Regions from separate parts of the Homo sapiens genome. Here region 2 is linked to region 1. Evidence: fine-mapped expression QTL. A gene starts in region 1. The other region holds a variant in brackets. All regions are shown on one strand. Distances are between the middles of the regions. Region 1 holds the start of MYD88 (MYD88 innate immune signal transduction adaptor). Region 2 overlaps CTDSPL (CTD small phosphatase like).

Region 1 (5,325 bases):
ACGGAAGAACGGGGAAGGCCCAGCGCAGGGCCTGAGTGGTTCGCTCACCGACACAGATGTCCCCCAGCTGTTCCGGCCTCAGATTCACGTCCTTGAGAACCGCGGTCATGACTGCCGAGAGAAGCTCGTCGGGGGTGGTGTCCTGCAGCAGAAAGAGCAGCCGCAGTGACCCCCACTCCCCCATGCCCACCCCAGGGAGACAAAGCGACCACAGCTGGGTGCGGAGCTGCCTCCGGCGTCCAGGATAACCAAACATACGAACCGGACCCCAGCCCGCGCCGGCGTCTTCCCACACTCGGCGCCCAGACCCTCGGGCCTCACCTTGAAGCCGCCGCGGCCCGCCCGGCAGATGGCCGTGCGCCGCCCGTGCACCACCACCACGTCCGCGGCCGAGGCCTGCGGGGCACCGCTCAGGCAAGGCGCGGCCTGCGGCATCCAGCCGGAATCGGCCGGACCCCTCAGGTGGCCCAGCACTACCTGCAGCCTCTGCATTGCGCAGGTCAACCCTGCAGACCAGCCACCAGTCCGGGAACTGACCGCGGAGTTAACAGACAGCCGTCCGCACACGCGCAGAACCACATCTCAGCCTCCAAGGCCTCAACTCCGCCCACAGCTCTGCGAACAGACGCGAGCGACCCTCCAAAAGTCCCGTCCACCTCCAGCCTCAGCCAACCACAAGGAGAGTCGGCCTGGGAACCCGCCCCTCCCCGCCACCGCCTACCAAGCCCTCTATAGGAGGGCCCACAGGCACCGCCCAGCCGAGCTTTCCACTCAATGCCCCGCCTACCTTGGCCTACCGCAGCCAACCAGAAGGTGTATCTTTACGAATCCCCGCCCAGAAATGCAGACCGGAAGTCTTTCCACCTTTTGTAGCCAAACCCGAGACCTGACCCCCAAATCCCTGTCTCCTGCCCGCAGCCAAACGGAAGGCTGGGCAGCCAGGACCGCTTACTGCTTGGGGGCTGGAGATGGAAGCCGAGGCTCTAATTCCTCTACCCACTTCCTAGGAGGCTCTGCTATCCCTCCGGTCCCAGTACCCGAGCTGGGGGACCTAAATACTTCCGAGACGCCCGAGTCCTGCTCCGACGTGGTTGGGCTTTCCCATTCTTTCGAGAAGACAGGGAATTTGGGCTTCCGGGCTGGCCGGGAGAACAGATTTTACAGACATGCGGGGTGTGACAAGCTCTCTAACTGGAGAATGAACATTTCACACTTTTACCAGTTTTACACCCAATTGGAATGATTTTATTAGTGCCCATTTCCCGTGCTAGGCTGGGGTCTCCACCAAGGCAGAGAGGTACCATGTATCCGGGGAGCCTGCGACACCCTTGACACTTAGTAGATGATCAATAAGTACTTGTCGAATGAGTAAATGAATGAACCAGGGCTCCCCAGGTCAGGACTGTGTCCCTAAACCTAAAGGGCAAGGCCACGTGCCCCCTTGACTCCCAATAGCAGGGCCATGTCTTCACCTGAGACCCTGGAGAGTAGTGCTGGGCTTTCCACAGACACCAAAGGACAGGGTGCCTTGTGCTCCCCAACCTAGTGTCATGACGTCCCCAACCATTTCGAGGGCAGGGCCACGGCATGCCTCAGGCTCCAGAAGGCAGCTGTCCGTTTCCCACTCCCACCTCGGGGAGCACAGCAGGGGTCTTCCCATACCCCTACTGGCAGGATTGCGTGTTCCCCAGAGACAGTGGAGGGCAGAGCTGGTGCCTTCCCACTTGTCCCCTCCTCGCCATCCTCGAGGGCAGGACCGTATGAACCCCTCAGATTCCTCCGTGGAAGAACTGTGGCTCCACCAGATCCCAAAAAGCAAGGCCCGTTTCCTACAACCCCCGAAGGAGGGTCGTCCTCACTCCGCCGCCAACCTACTAGCACCATCACCAGACCCTCGAGGGCGGTGCCGTGGACCTCTCCAGATCTCAAAAGGCAGATTCCTACTTCTTACGCCCCCCACATCACCCGCCTCGAGACCTCAAGGGTAGAGGTGGGCACCCCCGCCTCCGCACTTTTGCTCGGGGCTCCAGATTGTAGGGCAGGGCGGCGCTTCTCGGAAAGCGAAAGCCGGCGGGGCGGGGCGGGTGCCGCAGGAGAAAGAGGAAGCGCTGGCAGACAATGCGACCCGACCGCGCTGAGGCTCCAGGACCGCCCGCCATGGCTGCAGGAGGTCCCGGCGCGGGGTCTGCGGCCCCGGTCTCCTCCACATCCTCCCTTCCCCTGGCTGCTCTCAACATGCGAGTGCGGCGCCGCCTGTCTCTGTTCTTGAACGTGCGGACACAGGTGGCGGCCGACTGGACCGCGCTGGCGGAGGAGATGGACTTTGAGTACTTGGAGATCCGGCAACTGGAGACACAAGCGGACCCCACTGGCAGGCTGCTGGACGCCTGGCAGGGACGCCCTGGCGCCTCTGTAGGCCGACTGCTCGAGCTGCTTACCAAGCTGGGCCGCGACGACGTGCTGCTGGAGCTGGGACCCAGCATTGGTGAGGACGTCCCCTTCCTGGCCTCGTACCTGGGGGGTGAGGAGGCTGACTTTCCGCGGCCTCAGCATCCTGTCTCCCATGGAGAGACCCCATTTCCTGCCTCGGGGGCCCGAAGAAGCCTGCAGAGGGAGAACCATGCGGGTCCCGTTCCTTCTTAATAACCGGTCGCGGTTATTAAGAAGGACTGGAGAAAGGTCCGGATAGGCGGAGATGGGAAGGAAGCAGCTTAGGCAGAGGCTTTCAGGTAGGGCCAGGAGTCAGAATCAGGCTTCTGTGGGGGCATCTGGGCTGTTTCAAGTAGAGCAACAGGACAGGTGGGGCGATTGACAGTGGACTGTCTTAGAAACCTCAAGTCCTGGGGAAATGCAGCCCTTCTTTCTACTCACTGGCACTTACATAATATACATGCATAGGCGTTGGATACAGCCGCCCACAGACAGGCACACCTTGCTGAGTTGGAATCACTGCACCATAACCAGTGGGTCTCCTGAGCCTTTCTGGCATGCCCAGCCCCTTGCTCACATCTGCCCTGGATCCCAGAAGAAGCAGACCTACCTTGGTACCATTCTTAGGATCCCTAGGAAGGGACAGAGATACAAACCTGACTTTGATGGCCTTCCAGAAAGCCAGAACACCACTGACATCCCTTTGGGTCAGTTAGAGCCAGTGGGAGCTCAACTTCTCAGAGCCGTTGAGCTTCGCGTGGCACCAGTGAACTGGGGAAGCCCTCTAGAACAACCCAGCCAGAGGAGGTGGGACAGCGGCTGGATCCTGACTGTGGGTAAAGAGGTAGGCACTCCCAGGGAGGCTGCTTTACTCTGTCTCTTCCCCACAGAGGAGGATTGCCAAAAGTATATCTTGAAGCAGCAGCAGGAGGAGGCTGAGAAGCCTTTACAGGTGGCCGCTGTAGACAGCAGTGTCCCACGGACAGCAGAGCTGGCGGGCATCACCACACTTGATGACCCCCTGGGTAAGGGTCCAATACTGTTCCCATGGGACAGGTGGAATAGGACATTGTGGTGTTAAGAGCATGGGTGTTTGAAGCAGATGGGCTGTGAGACCTTGGGCAAGTCACTTAATCTTTCTGAGCCTCAGTTTCCTCACCTAAGAAATGGAGATAATAGTCCTACCTCTGGATTGCTGTGAGATGCTCATGAAATAATGTCTGTCTCGTGGTTAATCCAGAGCTTAGCCCCTGAGGTACTCATCTTTCCTCTCCTGGAAAGGGCACTTTCTCTGAGGAGTATCATCTTGGGAAGGGTGCAGGGCCCAGGGTTGCCTAGGCAGGGGACTCTTGGCTGGATCCCTCCCAAGCCTTCCCATGGAGCTCTGACCACCACCCTTGTGCTCTGCACCCAGGGCATATGCCTGAGCGTTTCGATGCCTTCATCTGCTATTGCCCCAGCGACATCCAGTTTGTGCAGGAGATGATCCGGCAACTGGAACAGACAAACTATCGACTGAAGTTGTGTGTGTCTGACCGCGATGTCCTGCCTGGCACCTGTGTCTGGTCTATTGCTAGTGAGCTCATCGAAAAGAGGTTGGCTAGAAGGCCACGGGGTGGGTGCGTGGATGCATGAAGCCCTGCCCTGGGGTCCAGATACTGGGCATCTCCTCCTAGCTGTGCACTGTCCAGCCTGGGCACAGTGGGCCCTTCCTGAAGCTATTCCCAGGGGATATGCTGAACTAAGTTGCCACAGGACCTGCAGCCTGCCCACTCTCCCCTAGGTGCCGCCGGATGGTGGTGGTTGTCTCTGATGATTACCTGCAGAGCAAGGAATGTGACTTCCAGACCAAATTTGCACTCAGCCTCTCTCCAGGTAAGCTCAACCCTGCTCTGGCAAGAGAATGAGGGAATGTGTAGGTGGGGCCTCTGGATTGTCAGCCTTCCCTCCCCAAGGACTGTGGATGCAGTACCAAAGAACTGCTGAAGATCTCTGCACACCTGAGCATGTGTGCATGTGTGTGCCTTTTTGTGTGAGTGAATGTGTGCCAGGGGTACTTAGATGGGGGATGGCTGTTGTTAACCCTGGGGTTGAAGACTGGGCTTGTCCCACCATGGGGCAAGGGCCTGATGCCAGCATGGCACCCCTTGGCTTGCAGGTGCCCATCAGAAGCGACTGATCCCCATCAAGTACAAGGCAATGAAGAAAGAGTTCCCCAGCATCCTGAGGTTCATCACTGTCTGCGACTACACCAACCCCTGCACCAAATCTTGGTTCTGGACTCGCCTTGCCAAGGCCTTGTCCCTGCCCTGAAGACTGTTCTGAGGCCCTGGGTGTGTGTGTATCTGTCTGCCTGTCCATGTACTTCTGCCCTGCCTCCTCCTTTCGTTGTAGGAGGAATCTGTGCTCTACTTACCTCTCAATTCCTGGAGATGCCAACTTCACAGACACGTCTGCAGCAGCTGGACATCACATTTCATGTCCTGCATGGAACCAGTGGCTGTGAGTGGCATGTCCACTTGCTGGATTATCAGCCAGGACACTATAGAACAGGACCAGCTGAGACTAAGAAGGACCAGCAGAGCCAGCTCAGCTCTGAGCCATTCACACATCTTCACCCTCAGTTTCCTCACTTGAGGAGTGGGATGGGGAGAACAGAGAGTAGCTGTGTTTGAATCCCTGTAGGAAATGGTGAAGCATAGCTCTGGGTCTCCTGGGGGAGACCAGGCTTGGCTGCGGGAGAGCTGGCTGTTGCTGGACTACATGCTGGCCACTGCTGTGACCACGACACTGCTGGGGCAGCTTCTTCCACAGTGATGCCTACTGATGCTTCAGTGCCTCTGCACACCGCCCATTCCACTTCCTCCTTCCCCACAGGGCAGGTGGGGAAGCAGT
Region 2 (5,372 bases), 160 kb before region 1:
GGGGAAATTTCCTAGGTCATGAGAGAGGGCCAGGCAGGATGATCCGCAACTGTGAGCTGGGCTCAAACTCCCATCCAGCTCCTGGGCTTCAAGGAAGTGGATGGGCATCTATGGGAGTGGACGGCTGGGCACCATCCTGTCACTCAGGGGCTGGTCTGGCCCAAGTGCCCAGAGGACCTCTAGGGGGCAGTGTCATGCCATTCAAGACACATTGGAGCCAGCTCATTCATTCAGTGGTGAAATTCATGTTTACTGAGCCCCTCTTGTGGTAGATACTCTGGGAGGTGCTAGGGATGTGGTGGTGGGGATGTTTCAGGCCTGGGCCCTGACAAGGAGAGAGGAAATCAAGCAATCCCACATAGTACTCCACTCTGTGAGGGAAACAACCCAGAAAGGAAGATAGATGTGGCTCTAGGTGGATGGGAGAGGAAGTCAAGACCTGAAAAACCAGGAGACAGATGTTCTGCAAAGAGCTGGGGAGAGAATGCATGCAGAGGGAACACTGGTACAAAGGTCCTGACCATACTCAAAGCCAGTGTGGCTCCAGGGGCTCCAGATGGAGCTCATTCAGCTGTGCCATGTGGGACGCAGCAGTGAGGAACGTGGGCCTTACTCCAAGTGCGGTGTGTAGACAGTGGAGAGTTTTCAGCAGAGGAGTGACATGATGGCACATATGTTTTCCAGTGGCCACTCTGACAGCTTCTAGGTGAATGGGCTAGAAAGGAGGCCCCGTGGGAAAGACAGGTTTTTCACGAGGCTCACACAGCCATCCCAGGCCAGAGATTCGAGGCCCAGGCTAAGGGTGGTGGCAATATAAATAGATGCAAATGGAGTCAGGCTATCTTTGGAGATGAAACTGACAATTCCTGATGGTTGGATGTGAGAGAAATGGAAGAATCCAGTGCCATCTTATGTACACGGAGAGGAAAATAACCAGGATCCTAAGACACATCTAATTATTAAATCCATTTTTAAAAAACGTAATCTGGATCTTGCTGCTGTAGTTCAGGGTTTGGGGGGCTCTTTTAAACACCCAGCCTTCATTGTGACACGTCTTTTCCAGTATGCAGACCCTGTGGCTGACCTCCTAGACCGCTGGGGTGTGTTCCGGGCCCGGCTCTTCAGAGAATCATGTGTTTTTCATCGTGGGAACTACGTGAAGGACCTGAGTCGCCTTGGGCGGGAGCTGAGCAAAGTGATCATTGTTGACAATTCCCCTGCCTCATACATCTTCCATCCTGAGAATGCAGTAAGTGGCCCCAAAGAAAGAAAATGTCGTGCTCCATCTGAGCCCTCTGTCTTGCCAGGCAGGTACCACTTTTGAGCACCTACACAAGAAGGTCTCTGGGCCTTTTCCTAATGAAATCCCAGCTCTGCCATTTAGCAGTTGCGTGTCATTGACCAAGTTATTTAACCTCACTGAGCCTCGGTTGCCTCATCTGTCAAATGGGAATTATAGGAATGCTGATCTCATAGGATCATTGGAGGTTGCAGTGTGGCAATATATAAAAAGCACTTAGAATAGTGCTTGAGACTGGTAAATGCTCTATAAGCCTGTATCGTCTTATTGACATTTTTAGTATTGTTATTGACAAGGGTTCTGCTGGCAGTAACCTCCTGGAGCCAGCTACTGCGTAGGACTTCATGACCCCTGTAGACTAAGGAGGCCTGGTTGATCTCTTTAACAGAAGTATTTCTTAAGAATGAATAGGCCAGGTGTGGTGGCTCACACCTGTAATCCCAACCCTTTGGGAGGCCGAGGCAGATCACAAGGTCAGGAGATCGAGACCATCCTGGCCAACATGGTAAAACCCTGTCTCTACTAAATACAAAAAATTAGCCAGGCGTTGGTGGCACGCACCTGTAGTCTCAGCTACTCGGGAGGCTGAGGCAGGGCAATCACTTGAACCCGGGAGGCGGAGGTTGCAGTGAGCTGAGATCCCACCACTTCACTCCAGCCTGGCGACAGATGGAGACTCCGTCTCAAAAAAAAAAAAAAAATGAATAAAACACTTCAATAAGGTCTTCAAATAAGACTGCCAAGCTTTGCTACCTCATCATGATGTCTAAAAAGCACCCATTGGGAACATTTCATTCATAAAGCTCCCTGGACCATGGCAGCTCTCGGTGCCTACTCACTGGGTGCAGCACAACTCTCAGGGCAAGAAGGACTGCCTTCCTGCCTGCTGCCTGACACTTCCAGGGGAAAAGAGGCCAACCAGGGCCTCTGGTGACTGCTGACCCCTCAGTCTCTGCCACATCAGGCCCCTAGACCAGGCATTTTTCCCTGGAGAGGATGCTTCCTCTCAAGCACAGGCTTCTCAGATTCTACAAAAGCCTGCAAAGTCCTTTCCTTGAATCCAGAACTCTGCAGTCTCGCTTATAACCAAAAAAAATTCAAACTCAATTAATTTGGCTAGTGTGGAATCATTATTTGAATAAATACTCCAAATGTATTTCTATGTAAATGTGTTCATTTTACTGAGTAAATCAAATTCAACATAATATATTTGGTAACGTGTCTCTAACAGATAAGGATTGCTTTTTAATATAATCACAAGTCA[C/T]GGTCAGATCTGACAAAGTAACAGTTTCTTACATTGTCTAATATCCAGACTGTGTTCATATTGTCCCTATCATCTCGAAGTGTTGTGCATTTGGAGTATTTCAATCGGGATCCAAAAAGATCCATGCATTGCTTTGGTTACTATGTCTCTTCATTCTTTTGCAATCTTAACACGTCTCCCTTTCCTCCCCTTTTCTCTTTTATGCCATTTATTTGTTGAAGAAGCCCTGGTGTTTTGTCTTGTAGAAATCTCCTACATTCTGGATTTGTCCAGCTGCTGTCTTGTGATGATGTTTAATATGTTCTTATAGCCACCTTATATCCTCTAAACAAGTAATTAGAGCTCTACTGCTTGATTAGATTCGATTTTTTTTTTTTTTGCAAGAATATATCATAGAGGCCAGATGCAATGGCTCACACCTATAATCCCAGCACTTTGGGAGGCCCAGGCAGGTGATCACTTGAGCCCAAGAGTTTGAGACCAGCCTGGGCAACATGGCAAGACCCCATCTCTTAAAAAAAAAAAAATTAGCCAGACGGGGTGGCAGACACCTGTGGTTCCACTGTCGTTCCAGCTACTTGGGAGGCTGAGGTGGGAGGATCTCTTGAGCCCAGGAGGTCGAGGCTGCAGTGAGCCATGTTCATGCCACTGCACTTCAGCCTGAGTGACAGAGCAAGACCCTATCCCAAAAAAAAGAAGAAAAAAATAATACATCATGGGTATTATACGCTTATGAAGATATCATATCAAGGAGGCATAAAATGTCAGGTTAGCCCACTTTTAAAGATTTAAAATTCATCATTGGGTTCAGGTGGTGTTAGCCTGATCCATCTATTATAAAATTCTCCCATGAACCTTTCACCTCATAATTTTAGCAGTTGTTGGTGATCATTGTCTACACCCACTATTTCATGAGGAATTGCAAAATGGCAATTTCTATTTTCAGACTAATGAGTTGGTGTTCTAGCGGCCTCCAAAAGTAGCCAATAATTTTTTTTTAGTATCATTATGAACTCATGGATTTGTTGTAGTTTCAGTCCATTTATTATTCTTTTGCATGCTCTAATTTTCACCTTTGGCTATGGACACTAATAACAAGTCTTTGATATAGGTTGAATATTCTTTATCTAAAATGCTTGGTACCAGAAGTGTCTTGGATTTTGGATTTTTTAGGATTTTGGAATATTTGCATATACATAATTGGATATCTTGGGGATGGAACCAAGTCTAAACATGAAATTCATTTCTGTTTTATGTACAGCTTATACACATAGCCTAAAGGTAATTTTATACAATATTTTTTATAATTTGGGGACACTAAATAAACTGTGTATCATGTGCCTGTGTTTTCACTACCACCTGGCACACGAGGTCAAGTGTAGAATTTTCCACTTGTGGTGCCATTGCTCAAAAAATTTTGGATTTTGAGGCATTTCGGGACTCAGATTTTTCAGATTAGGGATGCTCAACCTGTAGCTTCCTTACTTTCTTAAACAACAAGATGTTCCAGGCTCATGATGAACATTTCTTGCCTCAGCCCTGGAACCAGCCATTTTTGTATGGTGCCTGGTCCCTATTAGTGGAAGTGGTATTTAGAGACCACAGTTTAGGTGGATTTTCATTGCTAATGGGATATACTTTACTTCTAGCCCATACTACAGGGCAGAGCTAAAAATGACATATTTTTAGAAAGAAAACTAAATCATAAGTTCATACTGGTTTTTCCAATACAACGTTACGTTTTTATGTAACTTCTTTGCTTGTTTTGTTTTTGTATCCCTTTCTCTTATGCTGCAACTCTTGATTTCTAAAGATATTAACATAATTATATAATTGATCTGTAGTGTATGTTTAATAATTTCAGTAGCGGTACTAAATTATGGCTAATAATAAGACAACTCTATGCAGTTTAGGAATTTTTAGAGAGATGTACAGTTATAACACCATGTTTTAAAATCACTTGAATGCCAGGCTTGGTGGCTTACCTGGCTGCTTGCAATCCCAGCACTTTGGGAGGCTGAGGAGGGAGGATTACTTGAGCTTAGGAGTTTGAAACCAGCCTGGACAACAAAGCAAGATCCTGTCGCTACTAAAAAAAAAAGAAAAAAAAAAGGCTGGGGTGGTGGCTCATGCCTGTAATCCTAGCACTTTGGGAGGCCGAGGTGGGTGGATCACCTGAGGTCAGGATTTCAAGACCAGCCTGACCAACATGGTGAAACCCTGTCTCTACTAAAATACAAAAACTAGCTGGGCATGGCGGCAGGTGCCTGTAATCCCAGCTACTCAGGAGGCTGAGGCAGGAGAACCCAGGAGTTGGAGGTTGCAGTGAGCTAAGATCACACCATTGCACTCCAGCCTGGGCAACAAGAGCAAAACTCCATCTCAAAAAAAGAAAAGAAAAAAAATTAGCCAAGCGTGGTGCCACATGCCTATAGTCCCAGCTACTTGGGAGGCTGAGGTGGAAGGATCACTTGAGCCCAGGAGGTCAAGGCTACAGAGCTATGATTGCCACTGCACTCAAGCCTGGGTGACAGAGTGTGACGCTGTGTCACACACACACACACAAATCACTTGAAGTAATTGTGTGGTTGTGTCACCAATTTTATATACACTTAGATTCACTTTTATTGCTTTTTTTCTTAATGGTTTAATTGTATTTTAATTATATAACACATTTACATGGTTCCGACATCAAAACTATAAATAAAGACAGAGAAGTGTGTCCATTTCTGCCCTCTCCTCCACTCTCTCCCCATCCCCTAGGCGTAGTCATTTCTTTATTAGTCCTTACTTTATTTTTCAAAGTTA

What was found. PIP is the estimated chance that this variant, and not a neighbour inherited with it, causes the effect.
Region 2: its variant is fine-mapped to the expression of MYD88 in whole blood (TOPMed, PIP above 0.99).

Annotation. Positions count from the first base shown.
Region 1 is chr3:38,136,544-38,141,868 of GRCh38, forward strand. It overlaps MYD88 (MYD88 innate immune signal transduction adaptor), which reads left to right and starts at 2,118. Exons shown (of 5, transcript NM_002468.5): 1 at 2,118-2,485; 2 at 3,321-3,455; 3 at 3,845-4,025; 4 at 4,214-4,305; 5 at 4,589-5,325. The coding sequence starts at 2,158. The coding sequence ends at 4,743. It overlaps ACAA1 (acetyl-CoA acyltransferase 1), which reads right to left and starts at 584. Exons shown (of 12, transcript NM_001607.4): 1 at 322-584; 2 at 49-142. The coding sequence starts at 492. RefSeq lists enhancers at 1,699-2,642, 1,802-2,211, 2,712-2,841.
Region 2 is chr3:37,974,646-37,980,017 of GRCh38, forward strand. It overlaps CTDSPL (CTD small phosphatase like), which reads left to right. Exons shown (of 8, transcript NM_001008392.2): 7 at 1,064-1,249. Among named protein-coding and RNA genes, the nearest start is that of MIR26A1, 7.9 kb to the left of the region's middle. The variant C/T (reference allele first, on the strand shown) is at 2,565.